4 separate regions of the Homo sapiens genome follow, and regions 2, 3 and 4 are each linked to region 1. The links come from fine-mapping of genetic effects on gene expression. A gene starts in region 1. Each other region holds a variant in brackets. All regions are shown on one strand. Distances are between the middles of the regions. Region 1 holds the start of DUSP4 (dual specificity phosphatase 4). Region 2 has its middle 88 kb from the start of LINC02948. Region 3 has its middle 9.8 kb from the start of LINC02948. Region 4 has its middle 66 kb from the start of LINC00589.

What was found.
Region 2: its variant is fine-mapped to the expression of DUSP4 in whole blood (INTERVAL, PIP above 0.99).
Region 3: its variant is fine-mapped to the expression of DUSP4 in cerebellar hemisphere (GTEx, PIP 0.94).
Region 4: its variant is fine-mapped to the expression of DUSP4 in fibroblasts (GTEx, PIP above 0.99).

The regions. Positions count from the first base shown.
Region 1 is chr8:29,347,515-29,355,670 of GRCh38, reverse strand. DUSP4 (dual specificity phosphatase 4) reads left to right here and starts at 4,987. Exons shown (of 4, transcript NM_001394.7): 1 at 4,987-5,825. The coding sequence starts at 5,393. It overlaps LOC124901924 (a long non-coding RNA gene), which reads right to left and starts at 4,697. Exons shown (of 2, transcript XR_007060876.1): 1 at 4,137-4,697. RefSeq lists silencers at 1-290, 4,480-4,619, 4,810-5,129, 6,700-6,869 and enhancers at 4,070-4,179, 4,220-4,289, 4,988-5,487, 5,810-5,959, 5,488-5,989.
Region 2 is chr8:29,470,522-29,478,677 of GRCh38, reverse strand. No RefSeq gene overlaps it. Among named protein-coding and RNA genes, the nearest start is that of LINC02948, 88 kb to the left of the region's middle. The variant T/A (reference allele first, on the strand shown) is at 3,824.
Region 3 is chr8:29,548,364-29,556,519 of GRCh38, reverse strand. No RefSeq gene overlaps it. Among named protein-coding and RNA genes, the nearest start is that of LINC02948, 9.8 kb to the left of the region's middle. RefSeq lists an enhancer at 162-1,361. The variant T/C (reference allele first, on the strand shown) is at 3,356.
Region 4 is chr8:29,677,866-29,686,021 of GRCh38, reverse strand. No RefSeq gene overlaps it. Among named protein-coding and RNA genes, the nearest start is that of LINC00589, 66 kb to the left of the region's middle. RefSeq lists an enhancer at 4,698-4,747. The variant G/A (reference allele first, on the strand shown) is at 3,188.

The sequences.
Region 1 (8,156 bases):
CTCGCTGTCTCGCCCTGTCCAGGCAGGAGTGCAGTGGCCCAATCTTGACTCACTGCAACCTCTGCCTCTCCGGGTCAAGGGATTCTTTTGCCTCAGCCTCACGAGTAGCTGGGACTACAGGCACCCACCATCATGCCTGACTAATTTTTGTATTTTTAATGTTGGTCAGGCTGGTCTCCAACTCCTGACCTCAAGTGATCCGCCAGCCTCCCAAAGTGCTGGGGGATTACAGGCATGAGCCACCATCCATGCCCAGCCTCCGAGTTCATTTTTATCCCGTTTGGAGAAGTGTTTCTTTCCAAAATTTGTTTCTGAAATTTTGAAGACGTTTTATCAAAATGCTTGGGACGTTAGCACGTGACTAAACAAATAAATAAAAACTATGAGCTCTGCTGTCCATGAGTTTATATTCTAAAGCAGGGACAAGGAGGAGCTAGAGATCGTCCTTTATCTTATGGCATTATAGTGTGCTTGGCTCTTCAGAGGGCGAGATGGGAAACCTATGAAACTTGGACTCGGAGCTGAGAAGTCTTCTTCTGCTCAGAATCATACAGGGTCGGAAATAGACCAGACCTGAGAAACCATCCTGCCCAAACTCTTCATTTTGCAGGTGAAGAAAGTGAGGCCAAAGGAGACTGTCTTGCCCAAGGCCACCAAGCTAGATGGTGGCATAGCCTAGATTGAATAGTTTTAAAATAAAGCAGTAAATAAAGCAATGCATTAAAACCTTTCTGCAGAGACCCTGGGTTAGAAACTTAATCTTTTATTATTTTTTATTTGTATTTATTTATTTATTTTGAGATGGAGTTTTGCTCTTGTCGCCCAGGCTGGAGTGCAGTGAGGGGATCTCAGCTCACTGCAACCTCTACCTCCCGGGTTCAAGCGATTCTCCTGCCTCAGCCTCCAGTGTAGCTGGGATTATGGGTGCGCGCCCGTCATGCTGGCTAATTTTGTATTTTTAGAAGAGACAGGGTTTCACCATGTTGACCAGGCTGGTCTTAAACTCCTGACCTCAGGTGATCTGCCCACTTCGGTCTTCCAAAGTGCTGGGATTACTAGCGTGAGCCACCTCGCCTGGCCGATACATAGCCTTTTAAATCATTAATAAGTGCTAGAGTATCAAGCATAGAAAACAAAAAAGATCTGTAACAAAGTCAGGACTTAAAAAAAGAAATCCTCAGGCTATGTCTTTGAGAGTTTTTGGTTAGGTTCAGTGTGAACTTTGAAGACTTTCCTTCGCTTTCAGTCCTGACTTGATGGGCAGAGGTACGTAGGGAAGGACAGGCATTTCTCAATTCCATTTCTAAACGTTGCCTAAGAACACGCTGTGTAGACCACAGGCTTCTCTGCTTTCAGGAGCAGGAGAGGGTCTCCCAGTTCTTTTGAGCCTTCCCACTACCAGGGGGCAAGTTCCCTAATTAGTTGATCTAAGAAGCCTAACCAACAAGATCTGTGCAAAATGGATTATTCCTGTTCCAGTTCGACGTAATAGCAAGGCTGCCTCTTTGCTCAAGAAAGGAAAAGCCACAGGACTTTTCTTTCCATCACCACCTTAATTAATTCATTAATGATTTTTCAGGCAAGTTTTATTCAGGCACTTTGGGACAGAGCAGTGAGTCAGAGGTTGGCATCAAAACTAGAATAGAAGCTGTACTTCTCTCTGGGGATTCTACTCCGGGCTTTAGATTCCCCGATCATACAACTTCCTAATTGGAAAGAAATGTTCCTAAACAAGAGCAGGTGTTTTGCTGGAGCCTGACAGTGACTAATAAGGTCGGTCTAAGGACTGACTGATGAAAGAGAAGCTGGATTTACTTGTCACAGCGAATTTTTAAAAGTTCTTTCACCCCGAGGTTTACTGCTGAATATAAATAAAAGACCTCTCCTTGGGCAATCCCATCCCAATTCCTACAAATATGCCTTAGTTAATTAAATTAACTTTGAAATGACATTCCGTGTCTTGCTCCAAATTGCCTTTGTTTTCTCCAAGATCTGCTCATTGACAAGCTGTTTCACAAGGTTCCTGTTTAAAATGGTTATGTTTCGTCCACAGACTGCAGACGAATTGGAGACAGGTTTTATCTATAGCCGGCATGGAGTAGCCCTCGCGTTGTACTCATTTAACTGTGGACCAATGGTTCACAAACATACAATTAAAAAATATATATCTAGGGTGTTTACACAGTATCCCGATAAATACAATATGGTAACTTAAATCTCCTTTGCTGAAATTCACACAACTGAAGGCCAATTCCTGAGTTGGCAATGGGGTGTGGATTTTAAAAATTAGTCTTTTTTAAAAATCAGGCCTTCGCTTTCGCAATTCAAGTGGCTCTCGGCTTAAACACATTAAGTCCCAAGCTGTGACTCCCTTCCAGTGAACAGCCGCGTAGGCGCGGGCACGCACACGTGGACACACACACTCACACGCGCCCTCCCACACCCCTTTCCGTGTGAATCGCCTGCGGGATTTAGGGCTTCTCCACCAGCGATTACTGTCAGGTGCAGAAAGCAAGCCTCTTTGTTCTATGGGCATTTTCCTCCCCCTGGATTTGACTGTTATTTACTGGCCACGTGAGCGCCAGGCGCGGGTCCGGCGGGGAAGGCGACCCCAGAACAGGGTAGACAAAAGCTGGCCCAGAGCGCGACCCGTGCGCCCCAGGGACGTCTCCCCAGCTCCTGCGACACGCGTGAAATTGGCCCGGACCTGCCTCCTGAGAGGCTTTTCCCAGAAATGTCTTGTTAAAGCCTTTGTAAAGGAATCAGTGTTTACTTGCGCCGGGAGAGCTCCGGCCCTGGGTCCTGGCAGGCGGCGGATTTCTGAGCTGCTGGAGAGCAACCCGGGAAAGCAAAATCAGCCTTGGACTGTCGGGGCCCCTGGGGCTCCTTGCTCCTTATCGAAAGCGAGTTATTAGATAGACCCCCACAGTCCCATTCAGCAGAATGGGAAACTGGACTCAGACACCTTTTGCCCTCCCCACAGGGAGGCCACGCCGTGCGGCTTTGACCACTGATCTCCCACCCGGAGTGCCCGACGCCCAGGGTCCTGCCACCGGGCAGCCTCGGTCAGTCCACAGTTGTGGCTCCTTCCAGGGCCTGGACTAGGGTGAGCACAAGCCTTGAGCGCAACATTTAAGAAGGGCGCCGAAAAGTCAGTAATCAAAAGAAATATCTTGATGCAATGCCTCTTTAAAAGAAAAAAAAATGCAAAAAATCCATGATGAATAAAATACTAAATTTTAAAAAGAGAAAGGATCCGTGCAGTGCCATCGTAAGCCATTTTGGAGCCCGGAGCAAAAGGAAATATCACCTTGCCCAAGCGGTGCCCCTACAGCTCATCCGAGTAGGGCCCGGGGGTCGAGGCATTCGGGGCCCAGTGGGGGACGAGGCCAGTCGAAGGTCTCGGAAGTGGAGGCTCCGCCGAGCTCCGGTCGGGGAGTGCAGGGATGGCCCCCGGGACCGGAGGTGAGAGCTCGGGAAAGCCGCTCCGCCCGGAACAAAGGCATGGGGAGAGGGTGAGCTTGGGCGGGAGAGACCCGGCGGGTACCGGTGCCCTCGCTGCCTGGGTCGGGCTTCCACGCGCGCCCCGGAATGGAATACGCTACTCTGCAGCCTCCGAAACTGCGAGCGAGTCCTGTAACTCCCTTGCTCTGTGATTAATTCTCACTAACAAGACTTGGCAAGATGTCGGGCGAATGATTTTTGGCTTCTGCACGGTCCCCACCGCGTGCGTGCACAAACCCCCAGCCAAAAGCCGCCTCTGGGAAATTAAATGCAAAAGAGAAATGGGGATGGGGAGGGCTGCTACGTGACCAGGAAAAAGGGATGCCCAGAAACATGAATCGGACCCAGAGCTGCTGAAGTCCTTTCAAAAGGTCATTCTTTGCGGGTACATTTTCCAGGGTCCAGCTCCGCAACAAATGTGGACCCTGTCATTTCCTGAAAGGATAATTCACAACTATGCAAGATAGGGTGAAGACGTTTCCCAAACCCGAAAACCTTGTTTTTCCCCCGACCAGGGTTAAATAAACATCTTTTAGGAAGCGTGGACAGGAGCGCAGCCTGCTCTCCTCCCTCGGAACACCATTCCGGCAATTAATGCCTCCCTTTGGGTAGTAAAGCAACAAACCCCACACCTCACTCCGATCCTGGGCTTCGGGCGGGAGGACTTTCTCTTTCATCTTCCAAGCAGGGGGTTGCCCACGTTCTTGGGGAAGCTATAAAACTGATTTAATGGCTTTAGATGAAAATCGATCACGCTAATGCATACGCTAACGTCTCAGGAATCGCATATTCAGAAAGGACTGGCCGGGCCGAAAGCGCACGGGGAGTCTGGGGCTAGGAGGTGTCAGGCCCCGCTGGGTGGGCAGCAGCGCTCCGGTCCCCTCTCCACTTGGGTAACCGGGAAAAACCTACGGGGCTGTCACGCGGGGAAGCGCGAAGGTGCCAAGGGATGAAAGCTCAAACCCGAGCCCTGGCCTCCTCAGCCGGCTATTTCCTTTGGCGCCGCCCGCCTAGCGGCGGGGTGCAGCGGCGGCACAGGTGCCGGTGTCGGGCTGGAGGCGCGGCGCAGGCTGGGCCCGCGGGTAGACGGCGAAAGGCGCCGCGCGCTCCATTCACAAAGTCCGGGCGCTGCCCGCCGCTGGCGGCGGGTCGGAGGCCGCCTCCCTCTTCCTCTCGGCCTCGGTTTTATGAATGGGCCTGATGGCGAGCACCCGGCGCCCTGTTTACTCCGCTCTTTGTGACGTCGAGTTCCCGTGACCGGGAGCCAGCGGCCGCGCTCCATTCAAGCTCCGGGGAGGGGGTGGGAGGAGGGGCCCGGAGGGGGCGGGGAGTCAGCGCGGGGGGCGGGGGACAGCGCGGGGGGCGGGGGACGGCGCGGGGCCCGGAATGGAACGGGGCGGGGCCTGGCGGGGTAGTACCTAGCGCCCCCTCCCCCGGGAGCGCGGAGGAGCATTAATAAACCTCTAAGCCGAGGAGAAAACTCTGGCTGGGGCAGTGCGCTGAGCGCCGGAGGAGCGTAGGCAGGGCAGCGCTGGCGCCAGTGGCGACAGGAGCCGCGCGACCGGCAAAAATACACGGGAGGCCGTCGCCGAAAAGAGTCCGCGGTCCTCTCTCGTAAACACACTCTCCTCCACCGGCGCCTCCCCCTCCGCTCTGCGCGCCGCCCGGCTGGGCGCCCGAGGCCGCTCCGACTGCTATGTGACCGCGAGGCTGCGGGAGGAAGGGGACAGGGAAGAAGAGGCTCTCCCGCGGGAGCCCTTGAGGACCAAGTTTGCGGCCACTTCTGCAGGCGTCCCTTCTTAGCTCTCGCCCGCCCCTTTCTGCAGCCTAGGCGGCCCGGGTTCTCTTCTCTTCCTCGCGCGCCCAGCCGCCTCGGTTCCCGGCGACCATGGTGACGATGGAGGAGCTGCGGGAGATGGACTGCAGTGTGCTCAAAAGGCTGATGAACCGGGACGAGAATGGCGGCGGCGCGGGCGGCAGCGGCAGCCACGGCACCCTGGGGCTGCCGAGCGGCGGCAAGTGCCTGCTGCTGGACTGCAGACCGTTCCTGGCGCACAGCGCGGGCTACATCCTAGGTTCGGTCAACGTGCGCTGTAACACCATCGTGCGGCGGCGGGCTAAGGGCTCCGTGAGCCTGGAGCAGATCCTGCCCGCCGAGGAGGAGGTACGCGCCCGCTTGCGCTCCGGCCTCTACTCGGCGGTCATCGTCTACGACGAGCGCAGCCCGCGCGCCGAGAGCCTCCGCGAGGACAGCACCGTGTCGCTGGTGGTGCAGGCGCTGCGCCGCAACGCCGAGCGCACCGACATCTGCCTGCTCAAAGGTAAACGAGGGCTCCGGGCGCTAGCTGGAGTCGGGGAGATGGAGGGGGTCTTGGCGGCCTGCGCCTTATTGGCACGGGAAGGAGTCCCCGGCGTGATTCGTGGTTGCGGGGATCCCCGCGCGCCCCTTTGTGTGTGTTGGTGTGTAGGGGTTTGCAAGGTTTCTGTGCAAGTGCGAGGTTCAAGTCCTCAGGGAAAGTGCGGACGGGTTTCTCCGGTCACCTGCAATTCCGCACCGTCCTAGCGAGGCCCCGTTTATTGACATTAACGGTCCTAGCCTCGAGGATGAAGCGACTCCTCTGCGCGGTCCATCTTGAGTCCCGGGAACAGTTTCCAAGTACCACGGGGCGCGTGGGGACAAGATAGGCCTGTTGGTTTGGCGTGCTGGGGCCCTACACTGAGCCGGACCGGGAGAATCCCAGAGGTGGAGAAAAGGTGAAGAGGGGTGGGCGCCGAGGTACAATTGGCCTTGCCAGTTTCACTGAAAACAAGACCCTGGCAAATGCAGAAAGGGAGATTGGGTTGCACACACTGTGTAGAGCGATCTGTATCTGCGTTCCCGCTGCCCAACTCCAAGCTCAGCTTGGAAGGTGGCCAATCCCCGTCCCGGGCTAGATCCAGGCTCTGGGAGCGGGAGGCTGAAGGACTGGGTATCTGGGGGACGCCGGGCGGAACCGGTCCTCTAGCGCCTGCAAATCCGGGCAGCGGAGAATGATCACCTTTTGTTCAGCCCGGATTTTCGACTATCTGATGGCGGCGCGTGCCGGATTTTAGCGAGCCCTGGCGAAACTCTCGGCGGCGAGACTGTCTTGTCACATTTGGTAGTCGGAAATCCTGGAAAAATCGCGTGCTGTCCGAGTCCCTGGAGGGACCTGGCGCCCGCCACACCTGCAGGGCAGGGTGGGTCCGCGGCCCTCGGGCTAGGGAGCGGGCAGGGCGCGTGGGGTCCGGGCGCCCCCCGCCGCGCTGCGCCTCCGCCTCCCGCCGCCGCATTCCGCGCATTCTTCCGCGCGGGTAGGGTCTGCGCTTCCGAGCCCGGTAGGCAGTTCAGACCCCCCCACACCCATCAAAGAGCCGCTCCTCCCCCCCGCAGGCGCCTTCGCCGCCTCCCTCCCTTCCTTTCCTTTCCGCTCCTCTTCCGACCTGTCCACCCGGGAGGAAGGGAGCTGGAAAGGGGGCGGAAACCTCTCCCCTCCAAAAAGCACAACAAAACTGTTCAGTGCGGAGGAGCCGGGTTCGCCCCTGCCGGACAGCGGGGGGCTTTGTTCCCCGCAGTTGTTTCCTGCCCATTTGACCTGTCAGCTGCTGGGGAAACGCTGCTGTTGACCTTTGGTTGAACTGCTAAGGCGATTTTGCTGATTTTTCTTTCTTTTTCCGCGAGGGCTGTCTTTTGCTCCTCCAAATGAGCCCAGTCCCCCTCCCTTCTCCCCAAAGCGCTCCAAGAGAAAGTGCCAGGAAGGGGCTTGTCCCGGAAGGCCTGGCGGCTGAGCGGGGCCAGGTCCTGGTTAGGCCACCAGGGTGGGCGTCCGCGCCATTGTTTGAGCTTGTCGGCGCTGGTGGGAGAGATGAGGGCAATTCCTCTGGGACGCAAGTCCCCTCGAATGGCCGGGGCTGGCCGGGATGTTCCCCGCACGGCGCTGCCCTCGAGTCCCCCCGATGGAGAGCGCGGGCGCGCCTTCCTTCGCTGGCGTCCAAACCCGGGACCAGCTAGAACACAGCAGGGCTGGGACTGGGTTCCAGCCCCACGTGGAGTCTGGATTTGTTTTGTTGTGTTTTGCTTTCCTTCCTGGAAGAAATCCCGAGGGGACCGCCCTAGAGCGGCAGCTCCAGGACCTCGGCCCTTGGGCTTCCGGGGGTGCAGCCACTTAGGCCCCGCTCCCGGGGAGAGAGGGATTATTTTTTAAGATTTATCCCCAGGGCGCGCGGCATTTCCCTGTCCCTCGTGAATCCCGTTGAGAGTCCTCCCTCCCCAACCTCCTCCATTTCCCCAGCCAGACCGATTCGAGAGCCCTGGAGATTCTGGGCGAGGCTAGTGACTGGGTAGTACAGGCCTCTAGGTAAAATGACAGCCCTCTGGTGGGTGGCGAGGTGCCTGGCCAACATAAGAGAAGTACTTTAAGGGCTGTTTCCTCCTGGAGCCTGCACTGCCTCTCGTAGTCGGCCCCGACGCGGGCAGGGAGAATCATCTTCTGCATCTCAAAGTGGACATCCTTGCAGATGGAGGTGTGCAGGCCTGGGCCACAGATTTAGCTTCGGTCTCTTCTAGAATAGCCCCTCCTAGCCAGAAGTTCAGCTTCTGCTTCCAAAGGGAGCCTGCCCTTGGAAGCAAGCAC
Region 2 (8,156 bases), 120 kb before region 1:
AAGAACTGGGGGCCTGAAATCTGTTCTCCAGTTTTTGCCCAGATGGCCACATAGGCAAACTCGCACAGCCCAGTTCACCCACTTCAAAACATAACAGAGCAAAATACGTGGAAATAAACAAGTGACCAGATCCTGTGTCATGGGCTCTTTTGCTTTTATTATAGTCATCTGTTCTTAACACAGCTCAAGGGGCATGATCTGGATGCTCTTATTTTTTGGAAAGGCTCTACAGGTGTCTAAAATGGGTTCGGTTCCTGACTTGGGTCCTCTTTCCCCAAATACCCAGGCAGTCTCATAGCACACTACAATAAAGCCTTGCATTTGAGCCGAACTTACACTCTGCCCAATAAGAGCATGACATCCACCTTTCAGACCAATTTATTGTACTTGAATATAATACGTCTTGTTAATCTCTTCCATCTGTTGTTTATGTGCATGGACAACTTTAATAGGAAATATAAAGGACTGACACAGGATTTACTACTTGGGCCTCTGAGTCCAGGTTTAATTTTGTAAGGCATTACTATTCCTGCAGATGGGACACAGATAGGTAAGAACTGGCTTTTCCCCAGTTGCAAAGACGTTTGTGAGAACTTCCCCATCCGCCCAGGCAGCATTCCCATGGCCAGCACCATGCAGATGTTCCTGTGTCATCCTACCCTGGTATCATCAGAAGTCAAAGGCAGAATAGGATTTCCAGGGAAGGCATTTGCCAACTCTGTTATTCAGGAGCTTTTCTTCTTCCTACCGCCACTGCTTTCAGATCAATTCATTGCTCAATGTACCCACCACCAGGCTCCAGACAGGACAGACAAAAGTCATTGTCAGTCAGTTTTACCACTTGGAAATAGTGCAATTTAAAGTGCTTGTGTGAGAAGATGCTGACATGAAATTAGCTACCCTGAGGATGGGGGATTACTGAGTGCACAGTCTTCCAATTCCCACATCACCAAGGATAATCTGCATCTTTGAGGGAAAATTAACACCTCATGAAAAGCCAATCTGAAAAACACCAAGTATAATTAGATAAGGATAACTATGTGTTTATTAATTCAACAAATATTTGAGAGCCCAATATGTGACGTGCTTTGTGCTAGACGCTTGGCATGCGATGGTAAATGAAGCAGACACAATCCTCACTTGTCTAAATTATTCAATGCTGTTATGGGGTTGAGTCATGTTCTCCAGAAATTCATATGTTGCCGTCCTAACCCACAGTACCTCAGAATGTGATCTTATTTGAAGATAGCATCTTTAAAGAGATAATCAAGTTAAAATGTGGTCATTAGAGGGGGCCCTAATCAAACATGACAAATGTTCTTATAAAAGGGAGAAATTTGGAGACAGACACACATACAGGGAAAACACTACATGAAGATGAAGTCAGAGATTGGGGTATTACTTCTATAACCAAAGGAACATCAAATGTGGCCAGAAAACACAACAAGGCAGGGGAGGGGTCTGGAAGAGATTCTCCCTCACTGCCCTCAGAAAGAACCAACCCTGCCGACATCTTGATCTTGGACTTCCAGCCTCCAAAACTGTGAGGCAATGTGTTTCTGTCGTTTAAGTCACTTAGTCTATGGTTCTTTGCTGCAGCAGTCCTAGCAAACTAAATACAAATGCCTTCTATAAAATAAAGTCACTTAAAAAGGAAGAATTCATGAAAAATTCCAACAAACTTTGTTTCTTTCTCTTCTATTATTGGAGGAATTCGGCTTCCCATAAACATGGAGAACTTCCATCTCTCCCAGCGGTGGCAGTTGTACGGAATCCCAAGACACAGCTCTAGCCTAGCCACCTCTGAAGGAACCCAGGGCCAGAATAAGTGGGGGCTCCTTGGAGTTCCGTGGAGGGACCTCACAGGTCAGTTGGATAAAATGCAATGAATTCTTCCTTTTTAAGTGACTTTATTATATAGGAGAACCTTTCCAAAATTTCTCTAGGGGACCCAGGATTATCCTGCCACTTCATTGTCTCAAAAAATGCTGGAAAACGCTGGCTGGCTTCAAAGATACATATCTAAGTAAATATTTTTCACGAATTTTTAATTATATTTATGTTACCAGTGAATTCTGTGACCTTGGGCAAGCCTTGCCTCCTTCCTGGACCTCAGTTCACTCATTTGCAAAGTGAGAGGTTAGACTAGAGGGTATCTGGGCCTTCTCTTCAGATTGAGTTGCGTTGCAACTTGCAGCTCATTGGTGCCAAACAATCTATGATAACAATAATAATAGTTAAAATGTGAGTGCTTACTTCTACCAAGATTTGATCTATGCAATCTTCCTAAATTAGTGCATTTAGTCTGTGCAACACTTTTATAAGAAAAACAAAAACAAATAAGTTGATTATTCTGAAATTTCTCCACGTACCTGGATTCAGTGGAATAAAAACATTATTATCACAAGAAAGAAAGCCACTGTCTCAGGCAGAGTATAAGGTGGCCTCTAACCTTCAGAATGCCCAAGGGAGTGCTTGGTCTGCCCTGTATGCTAGATGTAGGGCCTGCAGTTTGCTGCAGGAGCAAGCTATCCACACAATGAATGGGCCCATGTAGCCTATTCAATATCTCATAAACTGTCATACAGAGGCCATTGATCAAAAAGCCATTGGCAGAGAAGAGAATGTAGTATGTGATGGAATCATTGCTAATGATTCCACCTAACCCAGACACAAGGTTTCCTAAAATACATTTTCCACAAAAAATTGTTACTCTCAAAAGGGACCAAAGGCCAACCCACTGTAGTGGCTTCCAGGTGCTGCTACGAGATAATGCTTTTGTCTAGAAATGAGAAGCAGTGAAGTAGGTCTGCAATGTCTTAGAGGAAGAAGTCACCAAGGTCCATCTCTCATCCCACAAAGCTGGCCTGTGGGACCAAGATGGCCAGGGACACACCACAGCACCTGCCTGCTGCCAGCAAAGAATATGTCATCCCAGAAAGAATACTTCTTGCATCTCTCTATTGCCAAAATAAGAGACTGTGGTGAAAATTCCGGACTGAGTTCAGCCTTTTAGGCACACGTTTTTTATTTTATTTTATTTTTTTGAGACGGAGTCTCACTCTGTCACCCAGGCTGGAGTACAGTGGCACAATCTCGGCTCACTGCAAGCTCCACCTCCCAGGTTCATGCCATTCTCCTGCCTCAGCCTCCCGAGTAGCTGGGACTACAGGCACTCGCCACCACGCCCCACTAATTTTTTGTATTTTTTAATAGAGACGGGGTTTCACTGTGTTAGCCAGAATGGTCTCAATCACCTGACCTCATGATCTGCCTGCCTAGGCCTCCCAAAGTGCTGGGATTACAGGCGTGAGCCACCACGCCCAGCCTAGGCCCACATATTTAACTCCCTCTTTGTGACGGGAGTACCTTAAAAAATTATACCAGTGAAAGCACTTTGAAAAGTGAATTAAAATATTTTTTACATTCTTATTAATGTTAAAACCAAAAATCCAGTGTACATTGTTTTATAAGAAAAGACAAATAGCTGATTACATTTGGAACAATTATTCATTGATAAATTCAATGGTATTTATTCACCTCTACCAACTAGTAAGTTTGTCTTAAATCCATCATTCTATAATCTGCTCCTTAGAAGGGGTGGTAATCACAATCATAGATCCATGGCTGATAGAGATGGAAGGAATCTTCTAGAACATCTGGTCTAATGTCTCTTTTTCTTTTTGGGGGGACAAATTCTTGCTCTTGTTGCCCAGGCTGGAGTGCAATGGCACAATCTTGGCTCTCCTCCACCTCCCGGGTTCAAGCAATTCTCCTGCCTCAGCCTCCCGAGTAGCTGGGATTACAGTGGGATGTGCCACCA[T/A]GTCTGACTAATTTTTTGTATTTTCAGTACTGACGGGGTTTCTCCACGTTGGTCAAGCTGGTCTCGAACTCCCAACCTCAGGTGATCCACCCGCCTCGGCCTCCCAAAGTGCCGGGATTATAGGCATGAGCCACCATGCCCAGCCTAATTTCTTATCTTTACATTGAGGATACTCAGTTGTGAAAAGAAACAAAGTGATGTGCCCAAGATTACAGTGCTCAGAGGCAGCACTACAGGAAAACCCACAGCTCCCGACCCCAGGTGGGTGAGGACTCTGAACTATAGCCACACCACTTTCTAAAAGCCCTCACTCTTCCCTGTACCCCCGATCATGACTCTCCACCTGCCTAGTCCTTCCCGTCTATCTTTTATGCATGGAGGCTGGGGACTGACCCTTCACAAAATGGAAGCATTTTGAGATTATATTTTCAAATCTAGAAACATCATTTTAAGTTCCTAGGCTTACAGCCAGATTTTCCCACTGAATAGTACAACTGGATAACTTGCATCCCATTTGCCAGACTTTCTTCGATAATCTCCTTTCCTCTGCCCTTTATTTGGGAGGAAAATAAGTCAGAAAGAAGGAACAAAGAAGTTCTATGTGCACGGAAAAATACAGAATCCATCCCTGGCCATCAAGGCCTGGCTGAAGCCCAGGAGAAGGCTGAGAACTGTTTTAAAGAAACAGGCTCATCTAGAGGGATTCTCAGGCTGACAGGACTTGTTCAGGGTGTGAACTGAAGATCTAGCCTTTGTGGGTAAATTGCTTAGGTCAATGAAGTATGATGGAAAATAATGTCACACTTCATTGTGATAATCCCAAATTGGGAGAGCTCTTAGACATGGCCCAACACAACTCCTTGCACTGTATAATAGATCCTTAGCACTCTGCTGCATGATGTTCTCAGTTGCAGCTGTTGACACATGATCTCAAAATCCATGACATACTCTTTTGTAATTATGAGGGAGTACAAGTTTGAATCCAAGTTTTGAGCCAGTGGTGAAGGAGCAGGTCAGTTGGCTAAAGAGTTGGCCTTGCTAAATGCCCAACTCACATACTTTGCTGGGGCCCTAATATTTTTCTTCTGACCCAAATTTCTAACATTAAATTCTGTTATAACGGTATCTGTATGTGTGGGGATTTCCAAAGTATCTAGTAAGTACTAGTAAATACTCTAGTAAGTATTTTTCCCAAATATCAAAGATTTACTCTGTAAAACCTCTCGCCATGGAATCCCTCAGAGATACTCATTCAGCCTCCGGTTGAAGACTGAAACAGTGAAATCTTTGACCCACTAGCCTTAAAATTCTTTCATCATTCTCTTAGCAGTTTACCTGCTGCCCCTCTTAGTCTTCAGCTATATTCCTTTTCTTTCATTATTGCTTTTTTCCTCACTTGTCTTACCCAATAGTCTTTCACATTGCCACTGGAGGGTCCTTTCAGTGCTTCACAAGTATGGTGGAGGGTCTCAGCTTCCCACAGCAGAGATTCAGATGCATATAGCTTGTTGAGTTAGGTGGCATTCCATACCATAGTATCCTCTATTACCCACTGAGTTCCATCTAGTTAGAAGCACACTAGGGAAAAAAATTGTGATTATGTCTGCATCCGTGGTGTGAGAGGCAGCCCCACTGAGGAGGCCACAGGTGCCTGGGGAGAGCAGCCCTACAAGCAGCAAGCTGTGGTTCTGGCCAGAGTGGGAAGAGAATCCCAAGAGACATATACCCCAGAGGCCAACACAGAGTGGTGGGACAAGAGGCTGCCAAAGATCATTGTCTACATTAAAGATACCTCCAGGGAACTCCCAGGCATTCTACAGGAAGGAGAAGACTAACCTTGAAAGGCTCTTGGGGTTCTACAGTTGACAGGGTGGAAAGATCCAGCATAATTGGGGCCTGGATAGTACTGTGATGTAATCTTATTTTTCTTAACATTTGTGAGGTCAGGCAACATCGAGTTTACCCACCCAGGAAAGGGTTTGTAGACAGTTTCTCAACCATTCATAGAAAGGCGAGTACCTTCATCTCTCTGTCAACCACTGTGTATGGTTTGCACAAATACAGCCATAGAAGAAGTAAATCATAGAAAACAAGCAGGTGTGTAAACTCTTGTTGGGCACCATGGAAAACGTGGTTTGCCACAAGATAGTGGGGCTCAGAAATGATCCCACCAAGAGATATTTAAAACTGGGTGATGCGTGGGCTGGGTGCTGTTTTCAGTGTTTTCTCATTCAGAGGAGCAGCATTTTTGCCTACCTGTGAACTCAGACCCATCAAACCTCTAGTTTACAAATCAAATCCCATGCACTCTGGAATGGACCTGTCTGTCAGTGATGTCAAAGATGTCCCTGAGGGCTTTCAACAAGGTGATGTCACCTTAATGTTTTCGATTTAACACATTTCCTTTCCATTGACTCAGCCCTGACACTGTCTTACGTTCTATGATGAGAAAGCAGGGGAGCAGAGGCCAAGGCTATCTCTTCCTCCTCTGAGGATTGAGGGGACTGTGTATGTGCCAAAAAATAAAAAATAAATGCTGCTTGGCATAGTAGCACGCACCTGTGGTCCCAGCTCCTCGGGAGGCTGAGGTGGGAAGATCATTGAGCCCAGGAGTTCGTGGCTACGGTGAACTATGATTACATCACTGCACTCCAGCCTGGGTGACAGAATGAGACTGTCTCTAAAAAGTATTTTTTATAAGTAAAAATAATAGTAACAAATAAATGTTTATTGTTTTAAAAAAAACTGAAGAGTATAGACATATATAAAAATTAAAATTAAGGCCAGGCACAGTGGCTCACGCCTGTAATCCCAGCACTTTGGGAGGCCAAGTTGGGCGGATCACAGGTCAGGAGTTCGAACAAGCCTGGCCAATATGGTGAAACCCTGTCTCTATTAAAAATACAAAAATTAGCTGGTCATGGTGGCAGGCTCCTGTAGTCCCAGCTACTTGGTAGGCTGAGGCAGGAGAATCGCTTGAACCTGGGAGGCAGAGGTTGCAGTGAGCCAAGATCATGCCACTGCACTCCAGCCCGGGTGAGAGAGCGAGACTCCGTCTCAAAAATAAATAAAAAAATAAAATAAAATAAAAGTCCAATATTTTCCAATAACCCCACCCAAATGCAGACAATTCAGACCCCTAAGGTAGACACTGTTAAGAGATTGGGATGTGTGTTTTTATTTTCTAAGAATATACAAGTACTCCCCACCAACACATCAAAAAAATGTAGTCACACTAAACACATAAAGTGGACATCCTACTGTTTTCTTTTTTCTTTCCTTTTTTTCTTTTTCTTGTTTTTTTTTTTTTTTTTTTTTTTGAAACAGAATCTGGCTCTGTCACCCAGGCTGGAGTACAGTGGCACAATCTCGGCTCACTGAAACCTCCGCCTCCCAGGTTCAAGCAATTCTCCTGCCTCAGCCTCCTGAGTAGCTGGGACTACAGGCGCACACCACCACACCTGGCTAATTTTTGTATTTTTAGTACAGACGGGATTTTACCATGTTAGCCAGGCAGGTCTGGAACTGCTGACATCAGGTGATCCGCCTGCATCGGCCTCCCAAAGTGCTGAGATTACAGGCGTGAGCCACCGCACCCAGCCCATCCTACTGTTTTCAATCAAACTCTGTCTTGGACAGCTCTCCATGTCAGTATCTACAGAGTCTCCTTATTATATTTTTTAATAGCTGCATGGCTATCCCATTCTATATATGAACCATATTTATTTAACCTATCTTTTATTAATAGACATTTAAGTTATTTTGAGTTTTTTGTTATTACACGGAATGCTGCAATACATATCTTTTGTACAGTTATCCTTGGAGATGTGTATAATTTATTTCTATAAAATAAATTTCCTGAAGTAAAATTGCTGGATCAAAGGTGTCTTAGTCCATATGTACTTCTATAACAAAATACCTGAGACTGGGTGCCATGGTTTGACTGTTTATCCCCCTCCAAAACTCATGTTGAAATACATTGCCAATGTAATTGTATTGGGAGATGGAGCCTTTAAGAGGTGATTAAGACACTAAGGCTCCACCCTCATGAGTGGGTTTAACTATTTTTTTTTTTTTTTGAGGCAGGGTCTTGCTGTGTTGCCTAGGCTGGAGTGCAGTGACACGATCATGGCTCATTTCAGTCTCAACATCTTGGGCTCAATCGATCCTCACACCTTAGCCTCACAAGTAGCTGGGACTACAGGTGCTCACCATCATGAATGGCTAATTATTTTATTTTATTTTATTTTATTTTATTTTATTTTATTTTATTTTTATAGAGACAGGGTCTTGCTATGTTGCCCAGGCTGGTCTCAAACTCCTGGGCTCAAGC
Region 3 (8,156 bases), 200 kb before region 1:
GCTGGCACCGAGTACATTCTAAATGAATGACAACTGAATTTAGTAATAAATACTTATTGGAGTGCTCACAGATGCCAGGCCCTGCAGGTCTTGTGCAGGAGAGAGAGCTTAGAATGAAAGACAAAGAGGAAGTGAAGACCTTTAAAGGCATGTCTGGGAACCCAGAAAATTATACAATTAAAGTCTTCTAACTGTTAACCCTTTAAGTCCCAGGGATACAAGATTCCAGTGAAGATATTTACAAGTGTCATTATTGGTCATTTTCTACACTGGCACAAAACAATGAAAGGAAAAGAATAGTCTTCCGTGTGTGAAACTTCTGTTTTTAAGGTTAAAATCTATACTTGGAGGCATAGGTTTTGTGTTCACCTAGCTTTCCCACTTTCAAATGAGAGCCTCTCACACATGTAAATTGCCACCTGTCTGGTATTAACTTGGTCAAGAGTGTCGTACCAGGCTATCTCTATTCTGAGGCTTTCTATTCAAGGAAGCTTAGAGTTACAGAAAGCTGGCCAGAGCCTGGGGGTAGGGGAGTCCTTAGGGACCATCTGCCTTACCCTTCCTTTGCACATGAGGACTCTGAGTAGATTAAGCAGCTTCCGTCACCGGCAGTATTTTATGTAATATGCTCCAACAGACATTCAGCAATCATACAAATATGAATTCCTGTGAGTGATAATACTTAGAACATTCTGGTGTTGCCTCCAAGTTCATGGGCACCTGCATGCAGACAGCAGTGGAGGTCATGCACGACCTTGCCTTAGGACAAAGAAATACTCCATAATCATATCTGGTGTCCAGATATCTAGGAAAGAATGTGACCTAAACTTAACACATCATGTGTTCTTCAGCCCTAGAGCCTATCCCATCTCGCCATCGATTTAGCCTTTAAAGGGCACACCTTGAGGAAACAATGATCTCAGTCATTGCCCTTCAGCAATGTGAACTCTGGACTGTGTATCTAAAACAGATGGAGCCAGGTGCGTCAGAAAAGTGACGCCCAAAGCCACAGCGATCACGGCATGATTATGAAAACCACAACCTGTAACATTAGCTCAAAGAAGCAAGTTGAGTGCTTCCTCGAAGAAAAGTCTTTTGATGAGCCTAATGAGTCATATGAAATCAGGAAGTTATTCTTCCATTTATACTTTCCAAACTGGCTTAACTGTCTTTATTAACTGTTGTTAACACATGAAAAATGTTATTGATTGACTTTTAGCAGAATGATGAATTAAACTTAGCTTTTCTCATTGTTTCTCAATATAATACTGGTGTTGTTACCCTCTTTTAAATGTCTGATCAGCATCTACAGATATTCAACCCCTTAAGTGGGGATTAGAAAAGTCAATACACCCATAATTAATCCTAAACAGCTGATGTCCATCATTGGTGGACATTGGTCAATGAACTGTTGTCATAATTAATGTTAAATGTATAAGAGAGAATAATTTGGCTTTATACTGTTCATGTTAAGGCAGCTAGACAGAAAAAAATATATAAAATCTTCCAGAAAAATCTTGAAATAGATACATTTTAGAGTTTCATATGCCTTAGCATTCTACTTGTTTAAGATACTCATAGGGAGTTGTGAAAATGTGTCATATTTTGTTCTGATTAGTTTCAGGTTTTATAAATTTCTATGTATCAAATAAACTGAATTTATTAAGACATAATTAACCTATTTTCACATTTTAATCATTTAAGGCATATATAACTGTAATCAAAGCTTCAGATCAGGATGATATTCAATGTTATCAAACTGAATTAATTTAACTCTAATCAAAAGCAAAAATACCATGACATTCTGGTTAATTCATGCACTTTTATTTTGGGAAATGTGCAAAGTCTGTTGAACTTCTTGAAAAAATGAAAATTATTTAAAAATCTCTCTTGCTTCCTTTAAAGACCTCCTACGGTCCCAGGTCCCCCAGGGGATGAACCACTGAGTTAATGTTTCATAGAGGGCTCAGTAGTAGAATTCACACAGCCTTGAATTGGAGAAGGAGATCTGTCTTTTACTTCTGCCTTTGTCCCCCAAAACCTGCGTTTGTGACCAAGACACAAGTCCAATGCTTACCCTTCCAATGTTTCAATTTACCCATCTGAAAGTACGAAAAACTATGAGATAATTTAAGAAAAAAAAAAGGAAGAAAAGAAAAAGCAAAGAAAAGAAAAGAAAGAAAGAAAGAAAGAAAGAAAGAAAGAAAGAAAGAAAGAGAGAGAAAGAAAGAAAAGAAAGAAAGAAAGAAAAAGAAGGGGAGGGAGGGAGGGAGGGAAAATTTTGCACCTCAGGGCTTAACAACAATTCTACAGGAAGAAAACAATTTGGGTGTTCTGAGCTCAGAGAACACCTTAGGATGTTGCTCGTTCACATCTACTGAGCACCAGATAAATTCAACCTTTTTGAGAATTTAAAGAATTCCAAAAATTCAACTAGACTAGATTAGTTCCATATCAAGCTATTTGAATTCAATAATCTTCAGAAAAAACGATTACAATTCCAGAGAGAGAAATTGTTTTGAATTCTGGACCAGGGAACAAAGCCAAAAGTTTTGACTTGAGCCCTAAAGAGTTTCCAACTGTATTTCAATTGGAAATAAAAATGTGCTTAATTATGTCCACATCTACTTCTTTTGTAGTTTATATAATAGCTGTTTGGGGTGACTTTCCTTAGGAAACAGAGCTTGTGCCTTGATAGCTAATGAAAGGGATGCTTTAAAAAGTGTACTCACATAGACAATAGTCCCCTCTGACTTTAGACTTTTCTAAAAGTCCCTCTCTGAGTTGAATCCCAAGCTACACGTGTGCATTCTTATGCAAATAAACCAAATATCCAAACCAGGTGCACAAAACAAGAAATTCCAACACAGAAATAAAAACCTTATTTACTCACAGAATTGCAACAGTCTCAGTATTAACTGCTCTAACCTCATGAACAATCAGGTGCTGAGGGAATCAGGTGCTGGGGACTCATGGCTCATGAACTTCAGCCTGAGGAGACCATGATGATCCTAACAAGATGAGATGCCCCAAGGGACCACAATTCTGACCTTTGTCTCCACAGTCCATTGGCCGACCATCTTCTCTAGAAGAGTCCATCTTGCAAAGAAGTGCTCTTTGTTTCTCTGATGTTCTCATTGGAATCAAAAGAAAAGAAAACCTACAGACATGGTCTGTACCATGCTGCCATGGGTGACCCCCTGGTTTGCAGCCAACTGATAATCCAAAACAGTTGAGATGATGAATGTTTTAGAACACTGGTTTAAAGAAAGGCTCTTATTTTGGCCAACATGAGGCTGAAAAAAACCTAGCCAATGCCATTTTGAGACCAAATGGAAGAGCAGCAGGAATTCTG[T/C]CTGATTTAGAATGTTGTATGACACAATCTTTCATTACCTCCCACTTTGCTTACATGTTATTTATGCTTACTGAAATAATTTTTAGAGGTGAATATACTAACCATGACTATTGTCATTTATACCACAGAACCTTGAAAAAGCTCAGAAATTAGTGGTACCAGGTTACTTTGGAAGCAGAGTTAATGGTAAATAGAGTTATTTAAAAGGTTGTTGACAAGCTGTTAGGAGTTCACCTCTAATAGAATAAACTCCCACTGGACCTCTCTGCCTCAAATAATAATAATAAACTTTGAACAACTTTTTAAAAAAAATCCGAAAACACTGCAGAGTGAACAAAAGCAGGTAGATTCTGGAGGGGAGTTGCCATTTGGAATAAGGGAATGGCACAAGGTAGCAGAGTAATTTTCCCTTTTCTTCCTATTTCTTGGACCTAGGAAAGGTGGCCAGGTGGCATTGCTAAAACTCCAATAGAAAATCTGCAGTCTTTCTGGTCTGAAGAACCAGAGAAAAGAGTTCAGGGCCACTATAGCCACAACCACAGGGGAAATAAAGGGGTAATATTGGAAAGGAGGGGCCAAAGAAGGGGAGCCACAAATTAAGTGTGTAAATTCTGAGCTACTCCCTAGCTACACATGCACAGGGCAAACTGCACACATATCAGCTAAATATGCAGGAACTACAAGGAGATCTGAACTATCACCAAAAATCAGAGTTTTTAGCTTGAATCAAACCAAAGCAATTGCCTATTAAAATAAATAAATTCAACAACAACTCTCTCCCAGATTGTCCACAACATAACATTCACAACACCCAGAATACAATCCAAAATTATTCCATATATGAAGTAACAGGAAAATGCAACTCATTCTCAGGTGAAAAGATAATTAACAGAAATTGACCTTGAGATGACCCAGATGTTTGAAGTAGCAAACAAGGATTTTATGGGAGCTATTATAACTGTGCACAATGATGCAAAAGATAATATTCTTATAATGAATGAAAAGATAGGGAATCTTAGAAAAGATATAGAAACATAAGAAAAATTCTAGAACTGAGCAGTATAATATCTGAAATAAAATATTTACTAGGTAGAAGAGTAGGAAGGAGATAACAAAGGAAAGTGTCAGTAAACAAGAAAACAAATCAAGAGAAATTATGCAATTTCAAGCATAGAAAGGCAATTAAAACAATAGATCCTTTCCCTTACTCAACTTAACCAGATGACTTTCCCTCCTCCACCCCAGCAGAACACTAAAGGCTTAACATTCTCTAAAGGAGGTAAAACAGAGTCTCTGAACTTAGTGACCAAGGATAGTTGAAGATGGTAGTACAATAATAGAAACAGAAAAATTAAGTAGAAATTGACATACTAAATAGAGACAACACTCACTCCCATGCTTGCTCTTTTTCTCAAAATGTTAGCAGTAGGCTTATGCCCTCCAAGCAAGATATTAAAATATTCTACTTTGAGGAATCTTACCAACCCAGGAGAAAAGACCCAATGATATTGACAGCCAAGGTTATATTCTCCAGCCAAGTAATCCAACCATTTCCTATCTAGGAGAATATATGCCTGGTTGATTGCTTTCCAGGAACAAGATGGAGAAAGAAAACCGGGACTTGCATCATTCAGTGTGCGAACTTCCATAAAATACTTCCGCTTGTTAGCCCTAAACCTCTGTTCCCCTCTGTGCTGTCCCATCTGTGAATATTTATCCCCACCAAGTAGATGAATTGGATATTTAAGGAGCAAGAGTCAGAAGAAGGCTAACTTGTATCTACATTCTCATTAGTAATTTTGAATTTTGTACCAAAAGCATACATTATTCATTCAAAAAATAAAGCATTAATTTCCAGTGCTCAGTAAAGGGAATGACAGATAAATTTGAGGAAATAGCCCACAAAGGCCAGAAAATACAAAGAGAAGAAAAGTTGAAGAATAAACATGAGAAATGTGAAGAATCAATTCAAGAAATCTGACGAACAACTAATAGTAGTTCTGAGAAAAGAATAAAGAAAACAAAGAGAGGACATTGTCAGAGAAATAATAGAAAACTTCTCAGAACAAAATAATATGAGTCTCTGGATTGAAAGTAACCACAAAGTGCTCAGCATAATAAATGAATAAACAAAGATCCAAACTGAAGTATGACAGCCATTTAAAAAAGAAGATACTAAAAGCACTTAGAACAAAACAATCACATGGAAAAGAAATGAAATTGGAAATATATCAGAATGCTCTACGGCAACACAGGAAGCCAGGAGACACTGAACCAATGCTAACTTCAACATTCTGAGGGAAGTTATGGATGTACCTGGAATTCCATTACCAGCTAAATTATCAATCAAGTATGAGAATAAAGATATCTTCAAATATACAAGGAGTCTGGAATATTTCCTCTAATGTACCTTTTCTTAATAAGCTTCTAGAGGATGTGCTCCAGAAAAATAAGGGAGTAAAATAAGATGAGGATGCAGGACACAGAACAGGTGCAAGGAAAATCCAGGAGGAAACTGGGGAGTAGGACTATGGTAGCAGTAAGTACAGACTGGACTAGAAGGATAAATGGCTCAGGGGCAGTTGTCTTCGAAGCACAATGGGATTGATCAATTATCAAGAATATTTGACCATTTGAAGGCAAAATGGAAGGTGTTGGATAGACCTCAGCAATCATGAGTGTGGTGGAGAATTAAATAAATTTTAGTAAATTTTTAAAAAATAATTATTATCTCCAATAAAAACAAAAATTTCTAAAGCAAAATGTAATTATAGCACACCACTTGGTTTAGAAGTGAACAATACATATATAACCATAATAAAGTAAATGCCAAATCTGATTTAACCATAAATTTGATGGAACCTCATTGCACTGGTAGAATCAGAGAAATGGGATAGGAAGTGCACAAAAGCTCAACTCGACTGCTATAATACATGTAGATAGATAATGTCTAAAACTGATAAATCAAGAAATAACCATTTATACTTATTATTTAGAACCCAGGAACTAAAAACCAGAATAACCAGCTAAAAGAATGGATTGGAAGTAACTGCCTCTGGACAGCAAGATCACAGATTCGTTGTGAACATGGAGACTGTTATTATTCATTATTACTCTTTAAATACAATTTGACTTTTAACCAGGTTATGTATAACTTTGATAAATATAAAAGTAGTTTAAAATAAATAAGTACAATAAAGTAAAGGCTGAATTATTCTAAAGAATGATTCTGAGAGGGGTAATAATTATGATGGCTAAGACTTAAGTCATGTTCACTATCTGCCCAAGCTTTCCTTAGCATTTAATATATATTAAATCATTTAATTCTCATAACATTACATGAGGTCTCCATTTTGCAGACAATGAAACTGAGGCAGAGTAAAGTTAAGTAACTCATCCAAGATTCATGCAACTTTTAAATGGTCTAGTCAGGAATTGGACTGAGACAGAAGGTTCCAGAATCTGGGCAATTTACTACCCATTGCCCTTTTAGGAAAAAATGTCTTCCAACTCCCCTCTCCCTTCCTTCTATGTGCTATTTAGGTTCAGTGATTCTAGTTCACACAAAATATACTAAAGTAAACAATGTTTTAAAACATTCAAAAATACTTTGCAAGACTTTTTTTAAACAAACGTTTTTATTACTATAAGTTGTATAAATTGTAAAATGATGATTACCCATTGTATAAGATTGATTTTAAAAGTCAGAAAAATATAAAGAACAGATTACCCTCTTCCTCAAAGGCTCAAATTCAGTGCATCTCTGGAATTGGGCAGAGAGATGTGAAGACTACTCAAAGACCCTGGATTTTTAGAGCTTCTGTTGTATTGAAACTCTTAAAGTTTGAAGCTATTTAAAACTCGAAGCATTTCCATCAGAACAAGGTCCCAATTTCATATCATCATCCTTTCCGTGTCTGAAAGTATCATTTCCCTAAGTATGGGCAGCAGAACTATCATACTAATCATTTTGCAGGAAGAGTAAGTACTACTATCATGACTGTCTCAATTATTATAATTATTATCTTCTCTAAACTACCTGATCAGGTAATCCCAGGCAAGCTGGTGGTGGTACCCCAAGGGATAAGTTTGAAAATAGATGCCCAGGGCCCTTAGGTTGGCATATGCTAGATTAGTTTGTCAGAAGCCATGACATTTTTTCAGAATCCATGTATATGACAAGGTTCTCTTTGTCTCTTAGGTCCTCTGCCAATACTTCAGTCTCAGTTCTGAGCCTAAATTCTGAGAAGACTCTTGAATTACCATAGTTGGATTCTTTCACTGTATTCTGTGTGGCAAGAAGCTTCAGACAAAAACACTCTGGCTGGGCGCAGTGGCTCACGCCTGTAATCCCAGCACTGTGCGAGGCAGGCAGATCGCTTGAGGTCAGGAGTTGGAGACCAACCTGGCCAACATGGTGAAACTCTGTCTCTACCAAAAATAACAAAAATTAGCTGGGTGTGTTGACTCACGCCTGTAGTACTAGCTACTCAGGAGGCTGAGGCATGAGAATTGCTTGAACCCAGGAGGCAAAGGCTGCAGTGAACCGAGATTGCACCACTGCATTCCAGCTTGGGAGACAGAGCGAGACTCCATCTCAAAAGAGAAAAGAAAAGACCCTAATGCTCATTTATTGAACACTGTGCTCACACATAAATCCATTTATTGCTTACAATAGGCATTCAGGTTAGTCGTATTATCCTTATTTTAGAGATAAGAAGACTGAGGTTTAGAAAGGTAAAGTCACTTGCCTAAAATTACACAGTGGGATCCCAATCCGGTTGTGTGAATTTCAGCCAGT
Region 4 (8,156 bases), 330 kb before region 1:
GATCATGTAAGTAGAGTGCCTGACACTTCTTATACACTCAGTAATTGACAACTGGTGTGTACTTTCTAAGGTAAGACACTTTGTGTGCAAATAACACAGTAATTATAATGCAAAAGACACATATCACCTCCAAGATTTTGTCTTGAGAAGATGTCTAAACCTTTGAAGGGTAAGAGAATTGGCCCTGAGGTAGGCCAACCACCCCCTACGTGGTTATATACATGCATTTATTTTCTTCTTCAGAGCTAACCTCACCTCTAAACTCAGACACGCTTATCCAGCTGTCTATCTGACATCTCAGTTTATGACTCACAGCCATCTAACATCAATATGAGTTCCTGATTTTCCCTGTATACCAATTTTCAAAGCCGGTGTTTCTGCACATCTTCCCCACCTTGGAAAATTGCACCAGCTGGCTGTGCATCTAGAAGCCCAGAAGTCATTCTTAATTTTTTCTTTCCTTTAAGCTCACATCTAACCCAAAGCAGACTTTGTCAATTCTATTTCCAAAATATATCTCACATCCATCCACTTCACTCCATCTTTATCCAGAACACTATTATTGCTTGTTAGACAACTGGTACAGCATGTACATGGTTTACCCATTTCCAACTTGACTCAGCAGCCATCAAGAGTCTCTTTGTTAAATATAAATTGAATCAGAGCACTCATTTGCTTTGAACTCTTCAGTGGCTCCCCATTTCCTTTAGAATGAACTCCAAGGTCCTGCATGATCTTCTTCCGGCCTGTCAATTCAACCACATGTCATGACACCCTCTCTAAGTTCTAGGAACACTCTCTTCTGTTTCCTTTCATCCTTTAAACTGGCCAAGTCTCCCTTCTACCCAAGGCCGTGTGCATGATATTCACGCTGCCTGGAATTCTCCTGTGCATCATCTGGCTCTTTAACAGTGAGCTTGTTTCAACTCAAAGCTACCTCTGAGAGAGGCCTTCCCAGCCTCTCCATCTAAAGCAGTACCTCCCAACTTCTCTCCCCACTCTGTTCTCTCAACACACAATCTGAGCTACTTGGCTGCTGCCTTCACAGCACATATCATAATTTGCAACTTTAAAAATTTCTTGTCTATTTGTACATTGTCTATCTTCTTTACTAGAATAACATTTGATAGCAGTAAAGATTATTTTCACCTAGTTCCCAGTTATAGCGTCAGGATCAAGCTAAGTAGTGGATGCTCAGTAAATACTGAATTAATGAAAAAAATGAGGATTTACAAAAATGTTCAAATTGTACTTGTGAATCACAAGCTTGGAGTCAATGTTTTTCCAACCCTGTGAGCTTCAGTTGTTGAACTGTGTGATTTCGTGAGAGTGGCTCATCTGTCCCGGACATGTGGGATGGTGGAATTGACTTCTATAGATGTGCTCCTAGTCATTCGTGTACTTGTTAGAATTTTCCTACCTCCCAACTCTTTTTAAATACATGTGGGCAGCTTGCTTTATAAAAGAATATTCTATTATGAATTTTTTTTCTAAATGGGATGATTCATTCCCTAATTTCTTTTGGACTAGTCTAAAGACAGATATATTGCATAATTTTTATTAGAAAAACTTTAAAATTAGTTTAACTTGGAATATTTGGAGATTCCCCAGGGGTTGAGACTTGATGCCTTGGGCAATATATTTTTGCCTTGTTTAGCAGGGCCCAACAGGGTTTGGCAGGGCTTTACCATCCAGTTCCAAGCACACATGACTATACTAGTCCAAGAATAACATTAGGTTCTCCCCTATAGATGTATCTCTCTGATACCTGGAATACCACAAAAGGCAGAAAGGCCATAGCACAAATGAAAAATAAGTATTTGTGATAATATAAGAAGTGCTACTGATCACTCATGGTTCAGTGCCACGACTCACTCTGGACCCTCTGAAGGAATCCACTAACTCACCCTTGCACCCCCTGCACCCCTGCTAGCTCTCAAATGAAATGTCAGGGCCATATGATAGCAGCATCTGAGGCTAACCCTTCATGATACCACCTCCCTCTGCCCTAATGATGCTCAGCCTCATCTCCCTCTCTCCCTCCAATCTCTAGGCGCCTACTGGACTCTGATGCCTGACTCTGGCTTCCACCAGGTTTCATGCAGGACCTGGTTCTCCAATTAGCATTTTGGGCTTTGCCCTCCTAAGCAGCTTCTACCTTTGCTCATTCCGAGTCCTGGCATCCCCCACTGATAGAGATAAATAGTGACCACTCCAGCTTGTACCATCCATTCCACTCTTCCACACTCTGGAAGCCCACCTGGGACTCCAGTAAAACAGCCTCCCCCATTCTATAGAGAGTGAGGAATTAGAAAGATTTATCAGAATCTTTCTTAATATGGGGAAAAGATAAAAAGGGCATGCAATTTCTAAGTGCTTCAGGACTGACCAGAAAAGAAAGGAAAGCATACCTTAGTATTGGTGGGCAAAACTTCTTATTTAACTATAACTATGCATGTCTCAGACTCATCAAGTTTTCCTCCAGCTACTGAAGGGCCTTTCTAATCCAGCAGGAGAGAGGAATGGCAACATCAATGCCACCAAAAGCCAAACAGCGTGGCACAGCCAAATCATCATTTCAGTCATTCAACAGGCATTTATTGAATAACAGCGTGGTGCCAGGCACTGTGTTGGTTTCAACCATGTTAGAACACAGTCTCTGCCCTTAAAGAGCTCAAAATCTGGAGAGGGTCAACTGCAAGAAAGCAAACAATGGCATTACAATGATAGCTATTAGGAGAGAGATTTCTACGAAGAGTTACTGTAACATGAAAAAAGGAGTTGTTCGCTTTGCCTGGGGTAGGGCAGTGGGGATCAGGGAGGACTTCAGAGAGCAAATGATATCTGAGCTGAATCTGAAAGAATGAGCAGGAGTCTTTCAGGAAGAAGAAAGCTGAGCAAATAGCATTACTGAGGCATGGAAGCTGGAAGGTACCAGTGGGCTTATGGGAAAGCGAGTGGTTCAGTGTTGCCCTAGCCACCAGGAAAGGAGGTTGTAGAAATAGAAGCTAAAGGATTTATGGCTAGACCACAAAAGCACAGGCAACAAAACCAAAACAAAATAAGGACTATGTTAAAATAAAAGGCTTCTGCACAGCAAATGAAACAATCAACAGAGTGGAATCTGCAGAATGTGAGAAAATGCTGGCAAACTATTCATCTGACAAGGGACTAATATCCAGAATAT[G/A]CAAGGAATTCAAACAACTCAACAGTTAAAAAAAATCCCATTAAAAAGTGGGCAAAAGATATGAATAGATAGTTCTCAAAAGAAGACATACAAATGGCCAATAGGTATATGAAAACATGCTCAGCTGGGCACGATGGCTCATGCCTGTGCTCAGCTGGGCACTTTGGGAGGCCGAGGCAGGCAGATCACAAGGTCAGGAGATCGAGACCATCTTGGCTAACACGGTGAAACCCCGTTTCTACTAAAAATGCAAAAAATTTACCGGGCGTGGCGGCGGGCGCCTATAGTCCCAGCTACTCAGGAGGCTGAGGCAGGAGAATGGTGTGAACCCAGGCGGCGGAGTTTGCAGTGAGCCGAGATCGTGCCACTGCACTCCAGCCTGGGCAACAGAGCGAGACTCCATCTCAAAAAAAAAAAAAAAAAAGAAAAGAAAAGAAAAAATGCTCAACATCACTAATCACCAGGAAAATGAAATCAAAAACACAGTGACATATTGTCTTATCCCAGTTAGAAGGGCTATAAATAAAAAGACAGAAAATAACAGATGTTAGCAAGGATGTAGAGAAAACTTTTATACACTATTAATGGGAATGTAAATTAGTATAGCCATCATGGAAGAAAGTATGGAGACTTCTCAAAATACTTCAAATAGAACCACCATTTGATCCTGCAATCCACTAGAGTATTTAGCCAAAGGAAAATAAATCATGGATACCTGTACTTCCATATTCATTGCAGCATTATTCTCAGTAGCCAAGATATGGATTCAACCTGAGAGTCCTTCAGTGGATGAAAAGATAAGGAAAATGTGGTATATATACACAATGGAATACTATTCAACCATGAAAAAGAATGAAATCCTGTCATTTGCAAAAACATTAATGGAAATTGAGGAAATTATGTTAAGTGAAATAAGCCAGACACAGAAAGACAAATTTTGTGTGTTCTCACTCATATGCGAGGGAGCTAAAAAAAGTTGATCTCATTGAAGTGGAGAGTGAAATGATAGATACTTGACACTGGGAATAGTGTGTGGATGGGTGAGGAATGAAGATAAAATGGTTAATGGGTACATACAGTTATATAAAAGGAAAAAGTTCTAATGTTCAATACTAGAGTAGGGTGACTACAGTTAACAACAATGAATTGTATATTTCAAATAGCTAGAAGAGAGGATTTTTAGTGGCCCCAACACATGCAAAAAAAGATAAGTTCTCAAGGTGATGGACATCCTAGATACCATGACTTGGAGATTGCAAACACTATGCATCTCACAAAATACATATGTACCCTCATAAATGTGTACACATATTTGTATCAATAAAAAAAGATAAACAACAAAAAAGAAGTAGCTGAAGGACAGGCTACTACCAGAATATGAGATGTTTAAGGAGCTGGGACTTCATTATGGGCATTGGGGAGACTAGGCTTAAGGACTTTAAGCAGGACAGTGACATGACCAGATGTGGGTTTTGGAAAAGTCACTTGGCCAACAGTATGGGGAGAAGGCCAGGTGGTTGGGGGCAGGGTGGAAGAGACAGAAGGAGAAGATGACACTAAAGGCAGGAGGAAGAGCTTGGAGGCTGTTGTCTTGGCTTTGTTGAGTGACTGTGAGAACCTAAACCAAGGGATGATATTGAAAGGGATAAAGGAGTCAGAGCACAGACACAATCTGAAAGTAGAAGTGGAAGGGTGTGGTGATGGCTTCACACAGAGCAAACAGCAGATGGAAGAGCAGGGGATGACGTCATCCCATCTGTCCTTTGTAAATTGTTTTCTATCTCTTAGGATACCTAGATGTGCATCATTGTTTGGGTTTTTTTCTTTTTTTGGAAGCATCTCAAACTTACAGATAAATTACAAATACAGAACAAGGAATCTTTTTCCCCAGACCACTTATGAGTAAGTTGTCAACATGATTTCTCATCAACCCTGAGCACTAGTATTTCCTACAAACAAGGATATTCTCCTACATAACCACAATATAACCACCAAAGTCTAGAAATTAACATTGATACATTACCACCATCTAATCCTCAGACCTCGTTCAAGGTTTTCCAATCTTCCCATAATGTCATTTACAGTGAAAAGATACAGTAGTCCAGGATCACACATGGCAGTTAATTATCATGTCTCCTGAATCTTCTTCAGTCTGGAAGAGCTCCTTGGACTTTCCTTCATGACCTTGACACTTCTGGAGATTTCAGATCAGTTATTTTGCAGAATGTTCTTTCACAAGCTCTCACTGTTGGAGAAGAGGGTTATTTCTTTGTGGTTAGATTCACATGATGCATCTTTGAGTAGGATATCCCAGCAGTGATGCTGTGATCTTCTCAGTGCACACTATTTGATGGCACGTCATTTCAATTTACTCCATTACGGATGCTGTTCATTAGGATAAGTTGATTAGGGTGGTGTCTGCCAGGCTTCTCCAGTGTAGTCTTACTCTTTTTCTCCTTATAATTCTTAAATATTTTGTAGAGGGGACATTTGAGACAATGTAACTACCCATTTCTCATCAAACCAGTATTCATGGATTCATATCTTTCTGGACTCATGGTTTCTTCTTTTAGTCAATAGGTTATAATTTGCTACTACCATTATTCATGGTCAAATTGCCTCAAATATGGTCAGTGTGGAGTTTCTTCAAGCTGGTGCCAGTATTGTCATCATTCTTAGAACACACCCTTAATTTCTGGTACAGCAGGGCACATCTTGTACTCTCTCTGCCCCAGCTATGGAATCATCTATTTATCCAAGGAGCACTGAATTCCTTTAATGAAACATGGTATTTGGGCATCAACATGGGGTGTTAAGTGTTCTCAGTGCTACTGGGGGGTTGCTGATCCTAGGATCTCTCAGTGGACAGAGGTGGAGAGCACACACACACACACACACACTCTTGCATTTACATCTATATTTGTTTCTACGTCTATCTAAAAACAACTCTAATTTAACATTACTGGATCTATTCTAATTTTCTCTCTTTCCATGTTGGTAATTCCCTTCTTCAACAGTGAAGGCCTGGCTCCCATTGTCTTTAATATATTTATTTGACCCATCTCCCTCTATGTAGCCAATTTCCTGTGGTTGGGACCACAGCCAACCTACATTGTATGTGGGTTTCCTCCTCACCTTTCTCAGGCTTTTTCAGACACTCTGATCCAGACCACCCCACTGCTAGGAGAGTCTCCTGGTGGGGGACTCTATTACTTTGCATGAGGCTACCTTCTCACATGGCTGCCCTGCTGACACCCCATTGACTCCAGGGAAGGAAATGGAAGGCTGAGACAGGAGAAGACAAAGGAAAGAGAGAGGGAAGGATGGCGGTGGAGAGAAGAGAAAGGGAAAAGACATTCTTGCTTGGATCCCTACAGCATTCCTGTCTGATGGTTGAAGCTGGTACTATTCTCCTTGTCCAGGTGAGAAAATTGGTGTTGAAGGGTTAATGTCTTAACCGGAGCCTCACATGCAGAGGAGTGTAGAGCTGAGGACCACTCCTTGGTCTTTTGAGTCTAAGTCCAATTCTCTGACCTCAACACCATATTACCTATGTCCTGAAGGTCTCCCAGGGACATGTAGATATGCCAAGAAATGAAAATTACTATTTGAGTTAAAATGTGTCTGCAAGAAATGTAGTTGTAACAGTAAAAATGTGTTTTGGCTGCTGATGGTTTCGCTGTGTCCCCACCCAAATCTCATCTTGAATTATAGCTCCCATAATCTCCACATGTCATGGGAGAGACCCAGTGGGAGGTAATAGAATCATGAGGGCAGGCTTTTTCCATGCTGTTCTCATGATAGTGAATAAGTCTCACGAGACCTGATGGTTTTATAAAGGGCGGTTCCCCTACACATACTGTCTTGCCTGCCACCATGTAAGAGGCCTTTCCTACTCCTTTGCCTTCCACCATGATTGTGAGGCCTCCCCAGACATGTGGAACTGTGAGTCCATTAAAGCTCTTTTTCTTTATAAATTACCCAGTTTTGGGTATGTCTTTATTAGCAGTGTAAGAACCCACTAATGCAGCTTCTAATTCACAGAGATTCCTAATAGTCCCTGGAAGACCCCTGAAAAAAAAAAAAAGCACTAACTGTGTATCCTTGGGCGGTCAGCAGGGTGTAGACTCTCTCTCTCCAGCTCTTCCTTACTCTCTCCTTCAGAGAAAACAAGTTGAGCGCATCTTTTTTCCTCCCAGCAGAGGATCTTTCCTTAACATTTACCCCAGTCGGGACAACCTTTCAAGGTCTTTTCTGGAATATTCTGAGTTTGATCTCTGGGGACATAGAATGGCATTACTCAAAGGATGGTGGCAGCAGAAACATCTCCTGGGAACTTGTTAGAAATGCAAATTTTTTAGCTCAACCCAAGGCAACTGAAGCAGCATCTTTTGGGATGGAGCCCAGATCTTCCAGGTGATTCAAGTGCTCACCTGTTCTAGAGCTCTGGGCTGGGCTCTGAGATTCTACATTTCTACCAAGCTTCCAGTTGATGCTGATGCATAAGTCTGAGATCTACCAAATCAGAACCTGCATTTTAAGTACATCTAACAGTATTCAAATGTCCACTAAAGCACTGCTGTAAAATTCTCTCTTTTTAGTTGCATACATAGCCCTTGAGGCAAGTCAGAGACAAAATGCCTTCTGAGTTGTATTGCTTATTGACTGAAGTGAAATTAATAGGTATCTAAAGTAAATATCTTTTCCAAGTTGGTCCAATGTCATAAATTACTTTGGGATTAAAACTTTTTAAATGTCATACCCAATTGGGACCTTTGCATATGCTATTATCTCAACCTGGAATGATTTTTCTCTCCCTTCTTTTCCTAGATTTCCAAAAGACCTTGGCTCAGGTGTCACTTTTGCAGAAAAGCATTTACTGACTGTTGACTTGGCCAAATCCCTGTGCTGTGTTTCCTAGTACGGTGAGTTGCATTTTCACATGAACTCATGCCTACCTTCTCTTGTT